Regions from separate parts of the Homo sapiens genome. Here all the other regions are linked to region 2. Evidence: fine-mapped expression QTL. A gene starts in region 2. Each other region holds a variant in brackets. All regions are shown on one strand. Distances are from middle to middle. Region 1 overlaps SDR42E1 (short chain dehydrogenase/reductase family 42E, member 1). Region 2 holds the start of SDR42E1 (short chain dehydrogenase/reductase family 42E, member 1). Region 3 has its middle 42 kb from the start of SDR42E1. Region 4 overlaps PLCG2 (phospholipase C gamma 2).

What was found. PIP is the estimated chance that this variant, and not a neighbour inherited with it, causes the effect.
Region 1: its variant is the best candidate, but not a certain one, in a credible set for the expression of SDR42E1 in whole blood (TOPMed, PIP 0.50).
Region 3: its variant is the best candidate, but not a certain one, in a credible set for the expression of SDR42E1 in pancreas (GTEx, PIP 0.85).
Region 4: its variant is the best candidate, but not a certain one, in a credible set for the expression of SDR42E1 in esophagus mucosa (GTEx, PIP 0.81).

What each region holds. Positions count from the first base shown.
Region 1 is chr16:81,985,703-81,990,854 of GRCh38, reverse strand. It overlaps SDR42E1 (short chain dehydrogenase/reductase family 42E, member 1), which reads left to right. Exons shown (of 3, transcript NM_145168.3): 3 at 1-2,000. Among named protein-coding and RNA genes, the nearest start is that of SDR42E1, 23 kb to the left of the region's middle. The variant T/C (reference allele first, on the strand shown) is at 1,980.
Region 2 is chr16:82,009,060-82,014,211 of GRCh38, reverse strand. SDR42E1 (short chain dehydrogenase/reductase family 42E, member 1) reads left to right here and starts at 2,742. Exons shown (of 3, transcript NM_145168.3): 1 at 2,742-2,825. RefSeq lists enhancers at 2,398-2,477, 2,488-2,577 and a silencer at 2,818-2,967.
Region 3 is chr16:81,967,211-81,972,362 of GRCh38, reverse strand. No RefSeq gene overlaps it. Among named protein-coding and RNA genes, the nearest start is that of SDR42E1, 42 kb to the left of the region's middle. The variant A/G (reference allele first, on the strand shown) is at 2,147.
Region 4 is chr16:81,918,503-81,923,654 of GRCh38, reverse strand. It overlaps PLCG2 (phospholipase C gamma 2), which reads right to left. Exons shown (of 33, transcript NM_002661.5): 20 at 3,991-4,171; 21 at 2,386-2,457; 22 at 61-170. Among named protein-coding and RNA genes, the nearest start is that of SDR42E1, 90 kb to the left of the region's middle. The variant A/T (reference allele first, on the strand shown) is at 2,021.

The DNA of each region.
Region 1 (5,152 bases), 23 kb after region 2:
CACAGTGGAAGTGTCTCTGAGCACAGCAAATACCTTAAGTTTGGGCCCAAGTGGAAAAGAAATATTTGGTAGTGGGTGATTATAGCCCTTCAGTGCTCAAGGGACTCATGCATTTGCTTGCACTTCCTTATGCCTGTCCTGGAGCCATCTCTTATTTGCAATGTGACTTTGAGCAAATGCCTCTCATCTGTAAAGTGGAGATAAAACATTCCCTGCTTATCTCTTGGGGGAACTTGTATGGATTTAATGGCACAGAGGCCTTTTGTAACCTGTACAAGAACTATGCACATGGATCCTTAATTAATAGTGTTTCTGCTGGGAAAGATGGAAGGGTTTGGAGGGGAAGCTGGTGTCTACAGGAAGAGATGCAAGACATGCTAGTGGAGTTTGAGACGTTCAAATGGAATGTTCAGTAACTAATTAGCAACATAAGACTGTAGTTTGAAAAAAACAACTGCATATGCGGGTAGAGATGGTTCAGTGAAAATGTTTCATTGATTTCCTGCCATATAACAGGTATTAGTTTATTTACCGTGGCTTTTCTTTTTTTCTTTTGAGACATGGTGTCACTCTGTCGACCAGGCTGAAGTGTAGCACTGTGGACACAGCTCACTGCTGCAGTGCCCTCCTGGGCTCAGGTGATCCTCCTAAGTAGCTAGAACCACAGGTGCACCAGCACACCTAGCTAATTTTTCTGTCGTCTTTTGTAGAGACAGGGTCTCACCGTTTTGCCCAGGCTGGTCTCAAACTCCTGGCCTTAGGTGATCCTCCTTCCTCAGTCTCCCAAAGTGGTGAGATTACAGGAATGAGCCACCGTGCCCAGCCTACCATGTTTTTTTTGTTTGTTTGTCTGTTTCAGACGGAGTTTTGGTCTTGTGGCCCAGGCTGGAGTGCAGTGGCACAATCTTGGCTCACTGCAACCTCCGCCTCCCAGGTTCGAGTAATTCTCCTGCCTCAGCCTCCCAAGTAGGTGGGATTACAGGTGCCCGCCACCACGCTCAGCTAATTTTTGTATTTTTAGTAGAGATGGGGTTTCACCATGTCAGCCGTGATGGTATCGAACTCCTGAGCTCAGGTGATCCACCCACCTCGGCCTCCCAAAGTGCTGGGATTACAGGCTTGATACCATGGTTTTCAATTACTCAATTCAGTCACGTTTTGAGCTCTAAACTGAAAATGAGTTTTTCTTTTCTTGAGATTGCAGAGTCAATTACACCATGCTAGAGAACAAGTAGGCATCTATGCCTCTCTGCTCTAAATTTTGATGTCTATAAACACCCATAGCGGTGTGTGTTGGTTTTAAATTGTGGGGCTAGAAAGCCAACCCAAAATCATCAAGCTTTTATTTCTACACATTCAGAGTGCTTCTGTGTAACTTAGATTTAAAAGTAACTATACAAATAATGCATAGATGTATTTTTCTTATATAATGTTAAAATATTACGGATAAGGCCAAAGACCCCTTTTACTAATGTCCCCAAATTTCATATATGTATATATTTGTATAGAAAACAGGGCTGTGGTGTTCATGTCTTTCCCCATACTACTGTCTCCCACCTCACAGTTCCTTCTGCTACTACGGTTTCTCACTCAATAGTACAGCATGGTGATCTATTGATATTAGTATATATTCTTTATTTGCTGACATAGGAGGTCACCGGGTATATAAAGATGATAAGCATATGTCCTAGTTGGCCTAAGACAGTTCTGGTTTCATGCCTGTAGTCCCACCTTAATTTTTAATAGTGCTTCCTTTCACTCTCAGGTATGTCCCATTTTGTATAATAAATTGTACGATCACCCTATATATAAGACACATAGTTATATGAAGAATTAAGCATTTTTCATAACAGATGTATTAGAAGTTATTGTGAACTGATTTTGAGGGGAAAAAATCTCATTTTGTACTAGAATAGAATATAGTAGAAAATCCTGAATTCTGGGTATGTAGCAGTATTCTACCAACATTGAAATATTAA[T/C]AAAAAATTACCTAAAGAAAATCTTATGTATAGTTTTTCAGTGCTTCTTTTGTGTATCCCTCAGCAAAATAGATTTACTGGTGGAAGAGTAGATGATCTGACACGCGGTCGTATGAAAGCAAACACTGGTTCGGTGGTTCACCGAACACTGGTAACTAGGAAAGACACAAAATAAAATATATCTGAACGAATTCCTCTACAGCACATGCAAAATAAAGCTAATATCAGTAGCAAACTATAATAAATTTGAATAAATTCCTCTGCAAGTAGCCATTGAACATGTAAAAGAATAAATATTTAGTCAATATTGGTACAAATTATGCAGCATAATACACTAGAAAGAATTCCAGTATCAACCTTGCGAAGGCAGCAAATTTAACTATATCACAGAACACTACAGTATTCAAGAAGCAAAAAGGAAAACATTTCGGTGAATTCAAATGGAACTTGATTTTCCAGTAAGTATAGCAACATCAGTCCAAAAGCATTTGTGAAATGCATCATATATGTTTTGCTTTTCATTTTCTCCAAACCTAAAAAGCCATCTAAAATGCCTGAGTATAGGTAATTCTCCTTATACTTAGCCGTCATTGTGTTAGTGATAGAGTCGATAACAGCCTCAAACAACCTCCTTCAATTGTCCTTCACAATGTTGTGGTTATTACTTCAGTAATTTTACTGCCTCAAACCTAGTAAACAAATAACATGGCTTTGCCTCGGCCAGCCCTATTAAGAACAGAGGTTAGGAACAGGTGGCACTGCCAGCTCCCACCCCTACCCCAGGCTGCCCAAGAAACCTGTCGTTCCCCAGCTGTTGATAGAGTCCTGTGTGCCACATCAGAACTTTCCTAACTTCTGCTGTCCACCTACCTCTGATTATGCTTCATGTACCTCCCCAACTTCCCTGCCAGTCTCCCAGGCATAGGCATGACTCATCTACCAGCAAAGGTGAAATCTGAGTTGGTAGATCTAACGCCTGGACTGCCTTTCCATTCCCCACCCTGGACACACATTCAGGGCACAACTGGCGCCAAGGAAGGAGGCTCAGTATGTGAGCTGGGTGGCGCCTGGCCTAGAGCTTGCCTTTGTAAGAACACTAGATGATTGCTACTTTCTCAAACAACGATGGCATAGAATATGTCTTATTTATGGCCATCAGATAAGGTAGATATACCTAGTTCTTAACAGCTGAACAGCATTCCATAGTGTAAATGTACCATGGTAGATTAAGGCATTTCCTTATTGGTGTTTATTCCGTTTGTTTCTAGCTTGCCACCTTATCAGACAGCACAGGCATGGATGCTCTTATATATATATATCTCCTTACATCCACGTTGAAATGAGCTGCTAGGATAGACATCCAGAAGTGGAATTAGAATTTTAATAGGGACTACTGTATCAGACATGCATTCAGCTGCGCATTTAAAAATTATTAACAGTGCCTTGAACAGTAGTTTGTTGTTTTCATGTAACAAGGGGTCCGGAAGTAGGCATACGTGGGATGACGCAGCTCAGTGGTAACATCAGGGACTGGCCCCATCTTTCGGCTCTGTTGGATCCTCATTCTAATGATTCTCACCGCGTGATTCTGAGAAGGTGGCTGCACCCTCAGGCATTATTACAGGCAAGAAGAAAAGGGAAGATAAACAAGGCCAAAGGGAAATGCCAGCTGGGTCTATTTCTTTTAAAAAGCCTTCCTGAAAGCCGACTCCAATTTCTTCTACTGGAAATGAGGGAGGAAGATGGGATTATAGGTGGGGCTTGAGTCAGCCATACTGTTCATCCGCTTCCAAAGTGGCTGTACAAATTTACCCTCCCACCAGAGTTCCTAGTGCCTCCATACCATTTCCAGAACTACCTTACATTTCCATATTTGCCAATCTCATGAGTTTTTTAATATCTCATTTTTTAAAACCTACCCTTTGTAATTACTACTCGAGAGCATCTTGCCAGGTATCTGTTAGACCTTGAGTTTCCTCTTATGTGAATTTCATAGTCATATTTTCCCCTACTTCTCTATTGGGTTGCTCATCATCTTTGCATGGATTTGTAGGATGTAAAAGACGTAACATCTTCTATCATGTAAATCATGGATAGTTTCTCTCTCCCCAACAGTTGCCTTTTAACTTAGTTTCAATTGTCTTTTTAATTATAGTAGTTTTAATTTTGTTGCTAAATTAATCATGGGGGGTTATATTTGTTTATGAAGGTCTTTCCCATTCTGAAGAAATAGATATTGTATGTTTTCTTTTAATAGCTTTAAAGTTTTATTTTTTACCTGTTTACCTTTATCTGGTATTTAGTTTTGTGCATGAGGTGAAGATCTAACCTGGTATTTTCTAAGTGAACAGTCAATTGTCTCAACATAATTTATTAATAATTATCTTTCTACTGAATTCAAATTCTCCCTATTCCCTCTCCTTCTCCTCAAGTTTATCTTTTACTGTGAAGATAACACAACTTCAGCTATTAAGGATTTATTAGGTCTTTTATATTTGCTAAGACATATCCCCACTCAATTTCATTTCATAATTGCAGGCTGTTTATATATACATTTTCCATATCCCTTTTAGAATCAGGTTTTATAGTTCTATGAAAATCTTGAGGGTATTTTTTCAACTGGGTTTGCTTTAATATTACAGTTAAATTTGGAGAGAATTGACATGTACAGTTTTGAGGCGTTGCCTTCATAAACATGGTATACGTCTCCATTTAGTTTTGTGTCCATTTATGAATCTCCATTTATGAATCTTCTGCAAATGATTTTTTTTTCTGAGACAGAGTATCGGAGTATCACTCTGTCGCCCAGGCTGGAGTGTGGTGGGGCAATGTCGGCTCACTGCAACCTCCACCTCCTGGGTTCAAGCGATTCTCCGGCCTCAGCCTCCCGAGTAGCTGGGACTACAGGCATACACCACCATGACCAGCTAATTTTTGTATTTTTAGTAGAGACAGCATTTAGCCATTTTGGCCAGGCTGGTCTCATACTCCTGACCTCCAGTGATCTGCCCACCTCGGCCTCCCAAAGTGCTGGGATTACAGGTGTGAGCAACCATGCCTAGCCAAGATTCTGCGTTTTCTATGTTAAGGTCTTGGATATCTTTTGTTAAGTTTATTCTAGGTAATTTAAGGTTATTATTTCTACTATTGTGAATATCTTTTTATTAGAATTA
Region 2 (5,152 bases):
AGTGGCGTGATCTCGGCTCACTGCAAGCTCCATCTCCTGGGTTCACGCCATTCTCCTGCCTCAGCCTCCCAAGTAGCTGGGACTACAGGTGCCCACCACCTCACCCAGCTAATTTTTTGTATGTTTAGTAGAGACAGGGTTTCACTGTGTTAGCCAGGATGGTCTTGATCTCCCGACCTCGTGATCCGCCCGCCTCAGCCTCCCAAAGTGCTGGGATTACAGGCGTGAGCCACCGCACCCGGCCAGAAGCCTTGGCTTTTAATCACAGGTCTGTCATTTACTAGTTCTGTGACCTTGGGTAAGTCACTTAAACTCACCTGATTTCCAGATGCAGTGTGGAACTATTACAAGGTTTCTCTTACCCACCTCAGAGAGTTGTAGTGCTACTACTACTAAGTCATAGCACTTTTAGGGCAGTGCTTATCAGCCTTTACTATACATAGGAATTACCTAGGGATTTTGCTGAATACAGATTTGTATTTATTAAGCCTAGAATGGGATCCAAGACCCAACATTTCTAATAAGCTCTCAGGTGATGTTGATGTTACTGATCCACACTTTTGGATAGCAAAGTTCTCATGTGCCTACCAAGCTCACAATAATTTCCGTTCTTTAGAAATGACCACAGTTTATAGCAGTTCTTGTGTCCTTTTGCCACAGCTGACAATGGTAGAGGTGATTTCTGATCCAAGCTGGGCCAAAAGAAGGTGTCGTTTGCAAGCCTGGGATTTTGAACAGGGACAACCAGAAATGTGACATATATTCATTTGCTGATTCATTCACCAGTAAAAAAAAAAAAAAAAAAAAAAAAAAAATTCTGTCTCTATGCCAGACACTATAGTAGGTAGTGGAGATACACCAATCAATCAAGCAGGTCTCTGCACTCACGGAGCTTTCATTATAGCAACATGCAAGATAATTTCAGATGAGCTAAGTGCTGTGAAGAGATTGAAGAATTTCAAGGGGATGCAGGAGACTTTAAGTGAAAGTGTTGGGGAAAGCCAAGCTCTTACTTCCTCTTCTGTAGTGACCTTGGCAGCCAAGAGTTGAACATGATGGCATAACAAATGGGGGAAGCCTGGGTCCCTGAGTGATTATGTGGAGCACAGCACTCTTCCCCTTCCCTGCAGACTGAATTGGACTGTGATCGGAGTGAGAAATAAAATACTGCACACCTGTGAGTAATTGTGACAGCAAACTGATCTTTCTGAGATGCATCCACTGCCTGGACATATTATTGGGGGAAGACAATACTAAACAAACACTGATATACAAACTCACATTGAAGTTAATTTCTTTCTCCAGTCATTTCTGTCTTAGATCTCTTGGTCAGACCTTTATAAAATCAACTCACTAAATTATGATGGAAGCTAAGGAAGCAATTATAGAGTTTGTAATTTTCCTTTAAAACACGCCTGATTATATTTTAAAAGAGTCCTCGGTGGCACAAGAATACTAACATTTAAATTCACCATTTCTCATGTTTATCCACACACTCTAAATCTGGGTATCCCTCAGAGGATCCTGTAATTCCCCAAAGGAAGTCTGTCTTCTTTACTGCATCCTCAGTGGGTCTTTTCTTCCTTAGCTGCTGGCCTCAAGAGCATATAGCTGGTCTCTCAGCCCCCTGAATACCCTTCCTCTTCTCTTCTAATTTTTATGTATCCTAAGCAGCCACTGCAAAGCTGTTCTTTAAGACTGCTTAGCACAAGAAGTCTCCTGTGACTTATGCCTGCCTAATAGGTGAGGACAAGACAGGCAGGAAAGCCAGAGCATCCTATGAGAGAGGCCAGTGCCAGGGACTGGCACTTCTTGATTTCTTCACCTGGGCTTCATTAATTTTTATATCCTAGGACTTGAGCTTTGTCCTTGTGACTGTGTGTGCTTAGTGAAAACTGAGCAGTAAATCAGGCAATTGATATGAACCTCTCTGAGTCTGCCTTTGGTACCAGATCTATCGGCAAGAGCACCACATGAAGTCAAAACTTCCATCCTCCAAGACACTAAAATGAAATCCTCCCCAGCCAGGGGTCCATTCCAGGATGCATGTCCATACACGTGTACAGTCTGCAACCATCCACAGAACCACACTCATGATGAGGAGACAAAAGATGGGCCTCAAAAGGAGACCTCTGAGTGAGGATGCCAACTTTCCTTTCTGCATTCCTTGGTTCCTTCAGCAACAAAGATTAGTCTTGGCATCACTGCCTGCTTGGCGACCAGAACAAAGAGAAATAAGGAAAATTAGGGACACAGGAAAACCTATGGGCACACATAGATATGGAAACTCAGAGATAATAGAAACTTAAAGAGATACATGGAGAGTGAATATTCTGCCTCCCTATAGAGCCTTTTCCATCATCCATCCACCCAAGCAATGCTGACCTGAGTGCCTATTTATCAGGCACTGGTCTTGGCCTTGGGGATAAACAAAGATGGAGGTGAAAGTCTAAAAGCAGACACTGGAGGTGGGAAGAGCAGTTGACGTGGCCCTAACAGGGTTCCCACCACGGCGGAACGCACAGACAGGGGACGTGGGGGAAGACGTGACCCTAAAAGGGTTCCCGCCACGGCGGAACGCACAGCCAGAGAACGTGGGGGAATTCATGAAGCGAACCTCCTGCTACCTCAACGCCGGTGAAGGTGAAGGAGACACCTGCGCGTCATAGAGACTCCGAGACCTCCAGGCTTCCTAGAGAGGCCCGGAAGTGGCTCCAGGAGGCAGGTCCGACGGCTTCGGCGCCCCAGCTGTGGTGATGGGTAGCTAGGAGGCCTGGGCCTCTCTGCCTGCTGTAGCCGTCTGCCGCGCCCTTGTTCCTGCAGCTGTGAGTGGGCCTGGGCTGGGGTTGGGGGGCCGCCGCCCTTCCGCGGGGACCCTGGACCGCCTCGGCCTGGAACGCGACAGGTGGCGGTCCCGGGGGTGGGGGACGGTGGTGAATGACTGAGCAGGGTGGCGGGAAGGAGTATCCCCTTTCAGATGTCTTCCTGATCCCAGGGGACCGGGCGCAGCTTGGCTTTCTAGAATGTCGCCAAGGCCTCAAACACTGGCCCTCCGCATTTTTTGTTTTTAAGGACATCGGGGCCCCAAGCTCCGAACTTTCCACAGGTGGCTGGCTATACTTGATTCCTGTCTTTGATTTTCTGCACACTTTGGGAGAACGATTACCTCCTCTTTATCACTTGGTTCTGGTTTGCCACTTAAAAGTGGCAGTGACAGGTTCCCATTTAAACTGCATGTATTTGTTGGGAAAAGGTAAGTAGGTTTAAACAAAACCTTATAGGCTAGTCATAATACCAGATGAATCAGATGTGACAGAAATTGTGGAGGTGGAGTGAGCCCTGAAAATCTGAGACGGGTCTCAGTTCATTTAGAAAGTTTATTTTGCCAAGGTTGAAGACATGTACCCATGACACAGCCTCAGGCGGTCCTGACGATGTATTCTTAATGTGGTCAGAGCCCAGTTTCGTTTTCTACATTTTAGGGAGACATGAGACAAGAACAGATGTAAGATGAACATGTTTTTCGGTCTGGAAAGGCGGGACAACTCGAAACGGGGAGGGGGCTTCCAGGTCATAGGTAGGTAAGAGACAAATGGTTGCATTATTTTGAGTTTGATTAGCCTCTCCAAAGGAAGCAATCAGATATGCCTTTATTTTAGTGAGCAGAGATACATGAATAGAATGGGAGGCAGGTTTGCCCTAAGCAGTTCTCAGCTTGACTTTTCCCTTTAGCTTAGTGATCTTGGGACCCCAAGATTTATTTTCCTTTCACAGTGATAAGATAATGACCTAAGCGAATCTGTATTGTCCCAGCCTTATTGTGCGGCATTACATGTAGTGGTTAAGAGTCATACAGACCCGGCTTCAAGTCCTGAACCCTGCCCAACCCCTTATGACCTGCATAATTTGTGGGCAAGGTTCCTAACCTCTGATCTATTTTCCTCATTTCTGAAAGCTGATGATAATACTAGTAACAACTTCGGAAGATTGTCCTGAGGCTTAAATGCTAAACCTTTAAACTACCTGTATTAATCCATTCTCATGCTGCTAATAAAAACATACCCAAGACTGGGTAATTTATAAAGTTAAGAGGTTTGATGGACTCACAGTTCCACATGGCTGGGGAAGCCTCATAATCATGCCAGAAGGCAAAAGAGGAGCAAAGTCACATCTTACGTCTTATATGGTGGCAGGCAAGAGAGCTTGTGTAGGGGAACTCCCCTTTATAAAACCATCAGATCTTTTGAGACTTATTCACTATCAAGAGAACGGCATGGGAAAAACCCACCCCTGTGATTCAGTTACCTCCCACTGGGTCCCTCCCAGGACACGTGGTAATTATGGGATCTACAATTCAAGGTGAGATTTGGGTGGAGACACAGCCAAACCATATCATTCCGCCCCTGGCCCCTCCCAAATCTCATGCCCTCACATTTCAAAACCAATCATGCCTTCCCAACAGTCCCACAAAGTCTTAACTCATTTTAGCATTAACTCAAAAGTCCACACTCCAAAGTCTCATCTGAGGCAAGGCAAGCCCCTTCCACCTATAAGCCTGTAAAATCAAAAGCAAGTTAGTTACTTCCTAGATACAATGGGGGTACAGGTATTGGGTAAGTATACTCATTCCAAAAAGGAGAAATTGGCCACAACGAAGGGGCTACAGGCCCCATGCAAGTCTAAAATCCAGCGGGGCAGTCACATCTTGAAACTCCAAAATGACCTCCTTTGACTCCGTGTCCCATATCCAGGTCATACTGATGCAAGAGGTGGTTTCCCATAGTCTTGGGCAGCTCCACCCTTGTGGTTTTGCAGGGTACAGCCCCACTTTTGGCTGCTTCCAGGGCTGGCGTTTAGTGTCTGCTGCTTTTCTAGGTGTACGGTGCAAGCTGTTGGTGGATCTACCATTCTGGGGTCTGGAGGATGGTAGCTCTCTTCTCACAGCTCCACTAGGCAGTGTCCCAGTGGGGACGCTGTGGGGTGGTTCCAACCCCACATTTCCCTTCCATGCTGCTCTAGCAGTGGTTCTCCATGAGGGCCCCACCCCTGCAGCCAACTTCTGCCTGGACATCCAGGAGTTTCCATACATCCTCTGAAACCTAGGGAGAGGTTTCCAAACCTCAGTTCTTGACTTCTGTGTACCCACAGGCTT
Region 3 (5,152 bases), 42 kb after region 2:
GGGAAGGAGAGGAAGAGGAAGATGAGGGAAGGAGAAGGAAGGAAGAACAGAAGGAAGGAAGAGGAAGAGAAAAAAGCCTCACAGACTTATAGGACACCATAAGCAGACCAAAATACTCATTATGTTAGTTCCAAAAGTAGAAGAGATAAAGAGACAGAAAGCTTCTTTAAATAAATAATGTCCAAAAACTTGTCAAATCTCTGAAAGAAAATGGACCCAAAGGGAATAAACTCAAAGAAGTCCATATTGAGACATCAGTTGTCAAAAGTCAGAATTTTGAGAGCAACAAAAGGGACTAATTACATACAAGGGAACTCCCATAAGAATCAGTGAATTTCTCAGCAGAAACCTTGCAGGCCAGAAAAGAATGGGACAGTATATTGGGAGTGCTGAAAGGAGGGGGAGAAAAGGTTGTTCAAGAATACTGTATCTGGCAAACTGTCCTTTAAAAGCAAAGGAGAAATAAAGACTTTTTCAGATAAAATTTGAAGAAGTTCATCACCGCTAGGCCTGAATAACAACAAATACTAAAGTTCTTGAAGTTTAAACAGACTCTAAGCAGCCATACAAAAGCATATGAAAGTATAAAGTTTGCTGGTAAAGGTAAGTATATAGCTAAACACAGAATACTATATTGTTAGTGTATACATCACTTTTAATTCTGGTACAGATGTTAAAAGCCAAAAGTATTTAAAAACTATGAAAATATGTAAGGGATACACAATATAAAAAGATAAAATTTATGACATAATTGACAAAGTTTGGAGGAAAGAGTAAAACTGTAGAGTTTTTCAATGTGATTACAGTTGTTATCAGCTTAAAACAGATTGTTACAACTATAAAATGTTTCATGTAAGCCCTATGTTAGCTACAAAAATTACAAAAAATCAACAAAGGAAGACAGTGAAAGAAGAAAAGGGACAAAAGAGCTGCAAGACAGACAGAAAATTATTAACAAAATGGCAATAGTTAGTCCTTTCCTATCAATAATTAAATGTAAATGTATTAAACTGCCCAGTCAAAAGACACAAAGTAGCTGAAGGATAACAAGATTCAACTAGATGCTGTATATAAGAGACTGACTTTAAGTTTAATGACACACATATACTTAAAGTGATAGGATGGAGAAAGATACGCTAAGCTACTAAAAGAGGGGTGACCATACTTAAACAAAATAGACTTTAAGTCAAAAGCTGCTACAAGAGACAAAGAAGGACAGATAATGATTAATGGGTCAGTTCACCAAGAAGATATAATAATTGTAAATATGTATGTACCAAACATCAGAGCACTTAAATATATGAAACAAACATCGGCAGAACTGAAGGGAAAAACAGCATCGCAATAATAGTAGGAGATTTCAGTAATGAATAGAACATCTAGACACAGGATCAATAAGGAAACAGAGGGCTTGAAAAATACTATAAATCAAATGCACCTAATAGTCATATACAGAACATTCCACCCAACAGTAGCAGAATACACATTTTCTCAAGTGCACACAGAAATATTCTCCAGGACAGATCACAAAGCAAGTCTTAACAAACTTAAGAAGATTGAATTCTCAAATTTATTTCCAACTACAGTGAAATGAAACTAAAAATCAGTAGGAGAAGGAAAATCAGAAAACTCATAAATATATGGAAATTAAATAACACCTACTCTGGAACAACCAATGGGTCAAAGAAGATATAAAAAGGTAAATTATAAAATATCTTTAGACAAAACAAAAACATAACTCATGGAGAAAAAAGCAGTAGGAAGAGGAAAATTTGTGGTGATAAATTCCTACCTCCCAAAAGAAGAGCTCAAATAACCTAACTTCTATACCTCAAGGAATGAGAAACAAACAGACTAAGCCCAAAGATGGCAGAAGAAATGAAATAATAAAGATTAAGGTAGAAGTTATCAAAGTAGAGAATAGAAAATTAAGACTGAATCATAAAGAAATAGAACATCTGAACAGACTTTTAGCTAGTAAGGAGATTCAATCAGTAATCAAAAACATCTCAAAAAAGGCCCAGGACCAGAAGATTTTGCTGATGAATTCTATTAAACATTTAAAGAACAATTAAGACGAATGCTTCTGAACTTTTAAAAAGTAGAAGAGGAACGAATACTTCCGAAGTCATTTTATGAGGCCAGC[A/G]TTACCCCAGTGCCAAAGCCAAAAACAGACATTACAAGAAAAAAATAATGCAGACCAATATCCCAGATATAGATGCAAAATTCTTAACAAAATACAAGCAAACCACATTCAATAGCACATTAAAAGGACATACACCATGATGACTAAGTGGGATTTAGTCACTTATAAGAGACTGGAGAGTATCCCTAGGACATAAGAATGATTACAAATATGCAAATCAAAAATGTGATACACCACAGGAACAGAACAGAGGATAAAAATTACATGATCATATCAATAGAAACAAATTGCGTTTGGCAAAATTCAACACCCTTTTGTGATTAAAAAAACTTAGGAAACTAGGTGTATTAGTCCATTTTGTGTTGCTATAAAGAAATACTTGAGATTGGATAATTTATTTTGGCTTTCAGTTCTGTGGACTGTGAAGCATGGTGCCAGCATATGCTTCTGGTAAGGCCTCATGAAGCTTTTAGTCATGGTGGAAGAGAAGGGCAGCCAGTGTGTCATATGGCAAGGGAGGTAACAAGAGAAATGCCAGGCTCTTCTCAACAACCAGCTCTTAAATGAACTAAGAGTGAGAACTCACTCATTACTGTAGGGAGGGCACCAAGCCATTCATGAGGGATCTGCCCCCATGACCCAAACATCTCCCACTAGTCCCTACCTCCAACACTGGGAATCACATTTCAATATGAGATCTGGAAGGGATGACTATCCAAATCATATCACTAGGAATAACAAGGAAATTACCTCAACATAATAAAGGCCCATATATGAAAACACGACAGTTAACATATTCAAAGGTAAAAAACAAACTTTTCGTCTAAGATCAGGAAAGAGGTGAGGATGCTCACTCTCACCACTTCTATTCAGCATACTAGTGAAGGTTCTAGCCAGAGCAAGTAGACAAGAAAAAGAAATAAAAGGCACGCAAACTGGAAAGGAGGAAGAAAAATTATCTTTGTTCACAGATAACATGATTTTAGGTGTAGAAAATCCTATAGATTCCACCAAAGGGGAAAAAAACTGTTAGAACTAATAAATTCAGTAAAGTTACAGGATTCAAAGTCAGCATACTAAAATTAGTTATGTTTCTGTACACCAACTACAAGCAATCTGGAAAGGAAATTACAGCAATCGCATTTATAACAGCGTCAAAAAGAAAACACTTAGCAATAAACTTAACCAAGGAAATGAAAGACTTGTACACTGAAAACTATAAAATATTGCTGAAAGAAATTTAAAACACAAATAATGGAAAGACATCCTATGTTCATGAACTGGAAAACTTAATATTGTTAAAATGTCCATATTACCCAAAGTGATCTACAGATTCAATGTCATTCCTACCAAAATCCTAATGGCATTTTTTACAGAAATAGAAAACACAATCCTAAAATTCATATAGAACCACAAATGATCCCAAATAGCCAAAACAATCTTGAAAGAGAACAAAGGTTGAGGTCTCATACTTCCTAATTTCAAAACACACTTCAAAACTACAGTAATAAAATATTATGGTACTGGCAAAAGACAGACATATAGATCAATGGAACAGAATAGAGAGCCCAGAAATAACCCTATGCACCTAAGATCAACCGATCTTTGACAAAGCTTCCAAGAATACACAGTGGGGAAAGAATAGTCTCTTCAAAAAATGGTGTTGGGAAAACTGAAAATCCGCATGCAAAAGAATGAAATTGGTCTCTTAACTTATATGTGAAAATCAATTTAGAATTGATTAAAGACTTAAATATAAGACTTAAAGCCATAAAACTGCTAGAAGAAAACAGAAGAAAAGCTTCATGACATGGGTCTTAGCAGTGATTTCTTGGATATGACCTCAAAAGCTTGGGCAACAAAACAAAGGTAAGTAGAACTGTATCAAACTAAAAAGCTTCTGCACACAGCAAAGGAAATATTCAGGAGAGTAAAAAGGCAACCTCTGGATTGAGAGAAAATATTTGAAAACTGTACATCTGATAAGGAGTTAATATCAAAAACAAGGAATTCCTATAACTCAATAGCAAAAACCCACAATTTTTTAAATGGGCAAATGACTTAAATAGACATTTTTCCAAAGAAGACATACAAATGGTCAACAGGTATATGAAAAGATGTTCAACATCACTAATCTTCAAGAAAATGCAAATTGCCCAGGCGTGGTGGCTTACGCCTGTAATCCCAGCACTTTGGGAAGCCAAGGCAGGCAGATCACTTGAGGTCAGTAGTTTGAGACCAGCCTGACAGACATGGTGAAACTCCATGTCTACTAAAAATACAAAAAAATGAGCCGGGTATGGTGGTGTGCACCTGTAATCCCAGCTGCTTGGGAGGCTGAGTCAGGAGAATCTCTTGAACCTAGGAGGCAGAGGTTGCAGTGAGCCAAGATCTCAGCCCTGCACTTCAGCCTGAGCGACAGAGTGAGACTCTGTCTCAATAAAATAAAATTTAATTTAATTTAAAAAAAAAAGAAAATGTAAAAGCCACAGTGAAATATCACCTCACACCCTTTTAGGATGGACATTATTAGAAAAATATGTATATAACAAGTGTTGACGAAGATGTGGAGAAATAGGAAACCTTCTGCACTGTTGGTGGTAGAAGTGTAAAATGATGCAGGCATTATGCAAAGCAGTGTGGAGGTTCCTCAAAAATTAAAACAGAGGTACTATACGTTCTAGCAATCCCACTTCTGCATATTTAGCTAAAATAATCAAAATCAGGAACTGAAGGAGAGATTTGCACTCTCCAGTTCATCGTAGCATCATTCACGATAGTCAAGAGGTAGAAACAACTTAAAGTGTACATGGACAGATGAATGGACAAAGAACATGGGGTATAGGCATACGATGGAATATTATTCAGTCAGAAAACAGAAGGAAATCCTGTCAGATGCTACAACTTGCATCTTGAAGGACATTATACTAAGTAAAATACGCCAATCATAGAAAGACAAATACTGCGTAGTTCTACTTATGTAAAGCATCTGAAGCATTGAAACTC
Region 4 (5,152 bases), 91 kb after region 2:
CACCAAGAAGGGACAAGTCAAGCCCACCTGCCGAGCAGCCCAGCCTCCACTCAGCCTTACCAGCCCCCGGGCTCCTTGGAGACATTGTGGATGAGGGCACCACGGCAGAAGCTCAGCTCATCGCTTCGCTTGGCTTTGTAGTCATACAGAGCTTTCACGGTTCTCTGAGGCTTTCAGGGAAAACAAGAAGGAAAAGGTCAGGCCAGGGACAGGAGGGGAGGGAGGCGGCTGCGTTCCCAGGTACCATTTGGTTCTTCTCATTGGGGAGCAGGAGGCTTCAGGCCAAGGTTACAAAGTCATCTGCTGGAGAGGGACTGGCATTGCAAAGGATCGAAGGCCCCAAAAAGCCACCAGGGAGTGAAGGAGAACTGGCCTAGTCAGAGCCAAGGGTACCTGGGTTGGGGTTAAGGGTTAGGGGTTAGGAGTTAGGGTTTGGGGCTAGGGTTTAGCGCTGGGGTTAGGGTTAGGCTTAGGGTTAGGGTGGGAGTGACCCTATATTGTAGTGACACAATATTGCTCAATTTCCTCAACAAAGAAAGGACATGCCTTTTAGATTAAGCCAAGACTGTCATCACAGTGCCGGTGCTCAGCAAGCCTCCCAGAAGCTCAAGGGCAACCCCATTCTTCCTGCCTGTCCTGAGGGCCTCATTGCTCTGTTTTTGTAGGTCAGCAGTCCCCTATCTACACTCCTGCAGGACCCTGACATTTTGCAAGAGTAACTGAGCTTCTCCTCCATGAAATTCATCAAAAGGTGGTCTCTGTTCACAGAACTAAATAAGATAGAACTTCCTTGGTTAGAAATTTTCTTCAATGAATTTGCTTTCATGCTTTCTGCCTGGCGGGCATAAATGAACACCCACACGGCAAGCAAATGTTAGTGGGAAAAGCTCTGACGTTGTCAAACCTGTTTAAATGAGCAGCTTCCTTCTCCTCCCACCCAAAGGAAATGGGAACAGGAATTTCACAGGGAACCTAGTAAAATTTTTCCTCAGAACACAGGCTACAGAGTCAGATATGTAGGTTCAAATCATTGCTCTGCCCTTGAATAATGATATAAGTTTGAGTCTCTCTGATCCTCAGTTCCCCCGTCTGTGAAATGGGAATTAAATTTTTATATATTTCACAGGGTTGTTAAGACTACTAAATGAGATCATGTGTATAATGATAAAACTGACAACAGCTTGCACTTCTTAAGTGCTAACTATAGTATCGCTAAAGCATTATTCCAAGCCTTAAGGTATCTCCTTTAATCCTTAAGCAACCATAACAGGTAAGTAGTTATATGAGTATGCCCATTTTGCAGATGAGAAAACTGAGATGCAGAGAGAGAAAGTAATTTGCCCCACATCGACCAGCTGTTTTAAGTGGCTCAGCCCAGAACTGGATCCATCAATGTGAGTTAGTGCCATAGTGCATGATGTTTCATAAGAAGCAATGTGGGTTCTAGGAGCTCTGCCACAGGGATCTGCAGCTGGAGGCCAGAGGCTAAGCAGTACCCTTGCCTTTCTCTCCCCCACCTGCAAACAGAGCAGCCTCTACTTGCGTATCCTGCTTCAAGGGTGGATATAAGGACCAGCCAGTCTCCAAGGCCACAGGAAGGAAAAGTCATCAGTTAGAGAGGTGACTGTTCTCATCGCCAAAACATCCTTCACTACTAACAAAAGTTTTTGCTACTAAGGTCTCTTAATGCATTTCACACACAGCTCAATTTGCCCACAACTTTTCAAGATTTCATTTCTTTCTGAAACAGATCTGCATTGGCCATGGATTATAAATTTTTGAAAAAGAAAGTCATCTCTGGATTTCAACAGAGCCCACAAGCAGGGCCCCTTCCTAAGTGAGCGTTGTACACTAATTGTGTGCCACATGGCCCCCAAACAGAAAATTCGCTGTGGTTCTTCCTCTGCCGGCTCAAACTAAATTTGAGATGAAAGCATGGCAAGGAGGAGCCGAGGGCTGAAAGTAAAATCCATCCCTACCTGCATGAAATTACACAACAGAGTCAGGGTGGGAATATGAG[A/T]TAGCATTTGCACTGCAAGGAGGTCAGTGAACCAAATGGAATTTATAAACACCACAGGCTCTGTCAGCGAGCCAAAAACATTTGAAAGACTTTTCATTAGAAGCCATTTGGCCCAAAGGTGGTTCGTCAAACCTCAGAATTTTAGCAAAACACTGTTGCATTTGGATGGAATTCTATTAACATTTTCCCTGAAACTAGGCTTGATATTATCAATCATCCTTTCTTCTCAAAAAAAAAAAAAAATTATTTTGGCCAGGTTTTCCAAAGTCTTCCCTTGCCCTGTTATAACTGCCATGGGAACAAGATGGAATCCACATCAGCCTCGTGACTCCAAAATCATGTGAATTGGAGGTTCGGCACCGTACCATGGACGGATTGATTTCACTGGGATCCACATACATTCTGCTGACGTCGTAGAGGGAGTTTATATCTCTTTCCTGGAAAAAAAAAGAAAGAAAGAAATGGAATAATCCATGCTCCTGGAATAGCCCTTACATATAACAAGGGTTCTAGGCTTCCTTATGGTTACCTATCCTTTGATAGAGGAGTTGAAACCTCATAGAATTTTCTTTTGGCCCATGAGTAGACACAGGAAGAAGCTATAAAGAAGGTCCCCAGACTTGGAAACTAACCCAAAATCAGAGAGGCCCTGTCCTGGCCTGCTGCGTGCCAGGCACTGCGTTCCTTTGTAAAAGCACAAATCCTAAGATGCGATGGTGTGCTGGAGTGACCTCCCGGCTCACAAAAGCCCACTGTGTACATCACTTCCTGACTCCACGTTCCAGGTTCAACGACAGCACATCAACAACTTGAAACTGACCTCCATGGAAGTATTTACACCATGGAAACTGGCAAATGCTACAAACCAGTGCCTTCCCCCTACCCCGCTGAGAGCTGTTTGAACATTTACTAGCACACCACTGACAAGATCCACCCCCACCACCTCTCTGTTCCTCTCTAACTCTTCTTTCTGTTCCTCATGTCACCTTAGGGCTTGTGATGTGGCCACTCCTGTACCTAGAGTCACCCCTTCATTCACTTCTCCCCAGATCCCATTCACTGCTATCTTCCATGTTTCGGCTCACATTTCTCCCCTTTTAAGGTGGCCTTCTCTGATCTCCACTCCCACAGCCTAAGGTAGTGTCCACCCCTTTTCACACTATCCTGTTTTCTTTGCTTTATTATATTTCATGCTACCTGAAAACATCTTAATTGTGTATATTATCTGTCTCTCCTCTCCAGAACCTAAATTTCCCAAAGCAGATTTTGTTCCACAGTACTCCTAGTATCTAGAACAGTCCTTGGCACATGATCGGGATGCCATAAATCTCTCTTCAATAAATTAATGATCTATGTGGTAGGAATGGAGACAAAGTAACCACATCAGGTCTCTCCTGCACCCAGAACTCTCCAATGACTCAGAGAAAAAGCCAGGGCCTTACAATGGCCTATGAGCCCCTGCATGATAAGTCACCTGTGAACCCTCATCCTTATTTAGCTCTACCCCCACCTGGGCTGGCTTGATTCCGGCCATGCTGACTTCCTCTTGGTGCCTCCAGGCAGGCTTCTACCTCAGGACCTTTGCGCATGCTATCCTCTCTTCCTCCAGAACATACCCACATGGCTCATTCCTTTTCAGTGAGATCTTCCTAGACCACCCTCTGAAAACTTCAACCCCTTCCCCATCACTCTGTATCCTCTTATCCACCTGCCCAGTGTTTTTCTCCATAGCACTCATCACCATCTGGCACATGCTATGGATATTTTAAATGTCATTTGTTGCATCTCCCCAACACTACACTATAAGCAGCACAACGGCAGGGTCTTTGTTGTGCTCAATTTGTATCCCCAGGACCTACAGCAGTATCAGATACATGGTGAATACTCAGAGGTTTGCTGAATTCATGAACAGATGAGTTACAACCTCAGACAAGAAATCCCACCAAATCACAAGGGAGTCCACCACCTACCATATTGTAGCGCTCCAGGAGCTCGGGGGTCACGGGGTAGCGCAGTCTCATCTTTCGGTAGAGTGAATGCTTCTCGTAGTAACTGACGAGCTCCACCAGACTCTCAAAATAGGCGGAGGTCCCCAGCACAAAGTGCCGGCCGTCCCGGTTGATGCGACAATGCTTTACCTTGCCCCTAGCCCTGGAGCAGGAAGAACACAGGGTTGACATGCCAAGATCCTGGTGGCCAAACAATTTTTACACAAACCCTACTGATTAGATACAACCTAGTTATCCAGCCTTAGAGAAGTGGGTAAATAAACAGGGTATAGTCCTCCTATGGAATACAAGACAATAAGAAAACAATGATGTGGGTATTTTCAAAACAGATCTAGAAGAATCTGTGTCTCAGAAGAAATATGGCCGAGTGACTCAACAGCTCCTCTTACCCTTCCTCTCCTCCCCAACTACAGGACTTGACTTTAGGAGCTTCCTAGGGAACTAGGTCAAGAGTAGGCCAAATGTGTCCCACCACCTGCTTTTATAAATAAAGCTTTATTGAAACACAGCTACAGTTCATTTGTTTATACATTGTCTGGGACTGTTTTCACACTGTAACAGCAGAGTTGTGTAGCTGCAACAGAGACCATATGGCCTGCAAAACCTAAAATATTCACTCTGTGGTCCTTCACAGAAAATGTTTGCCAATCCCCCCCACCTCAAAATTATTAAATCTTGTCTTCGGTGACTCAACTAGCAAAACAGTGACTTTTTTTAAAAAAAAAAAGAAACAAGTCTTTCATTCCTTCATCTGTTTGAAACATGAAGCAGAAAAAATCCAAAACAGAAGAGCCTCCTTGGTTTTATTAGCTTTTATCAGCAAGACAGAAACATCTGGAAAAATATTTTTGACCCTAAGTTTACAGCCAAGAGGGTCTTTTTAAAAATGTCTACCCCAAATAGCCAAAGCAATTTTGAGCAAAAATAACAAAGCTGCAGATAGCACACTATCTTACTTCAAAATATACTACAAAGCTATAGTAATAAAAATAGCACAACAGTGGCATAAAAACAGACACACAGACCAGTGGAACAGAATAGATAGCCAAGAAATAAATCCATGCATTTACAGTCAACTGATCTTCAATAAAGATGTCTAGAACACACCAGGGGGAAAGGACAG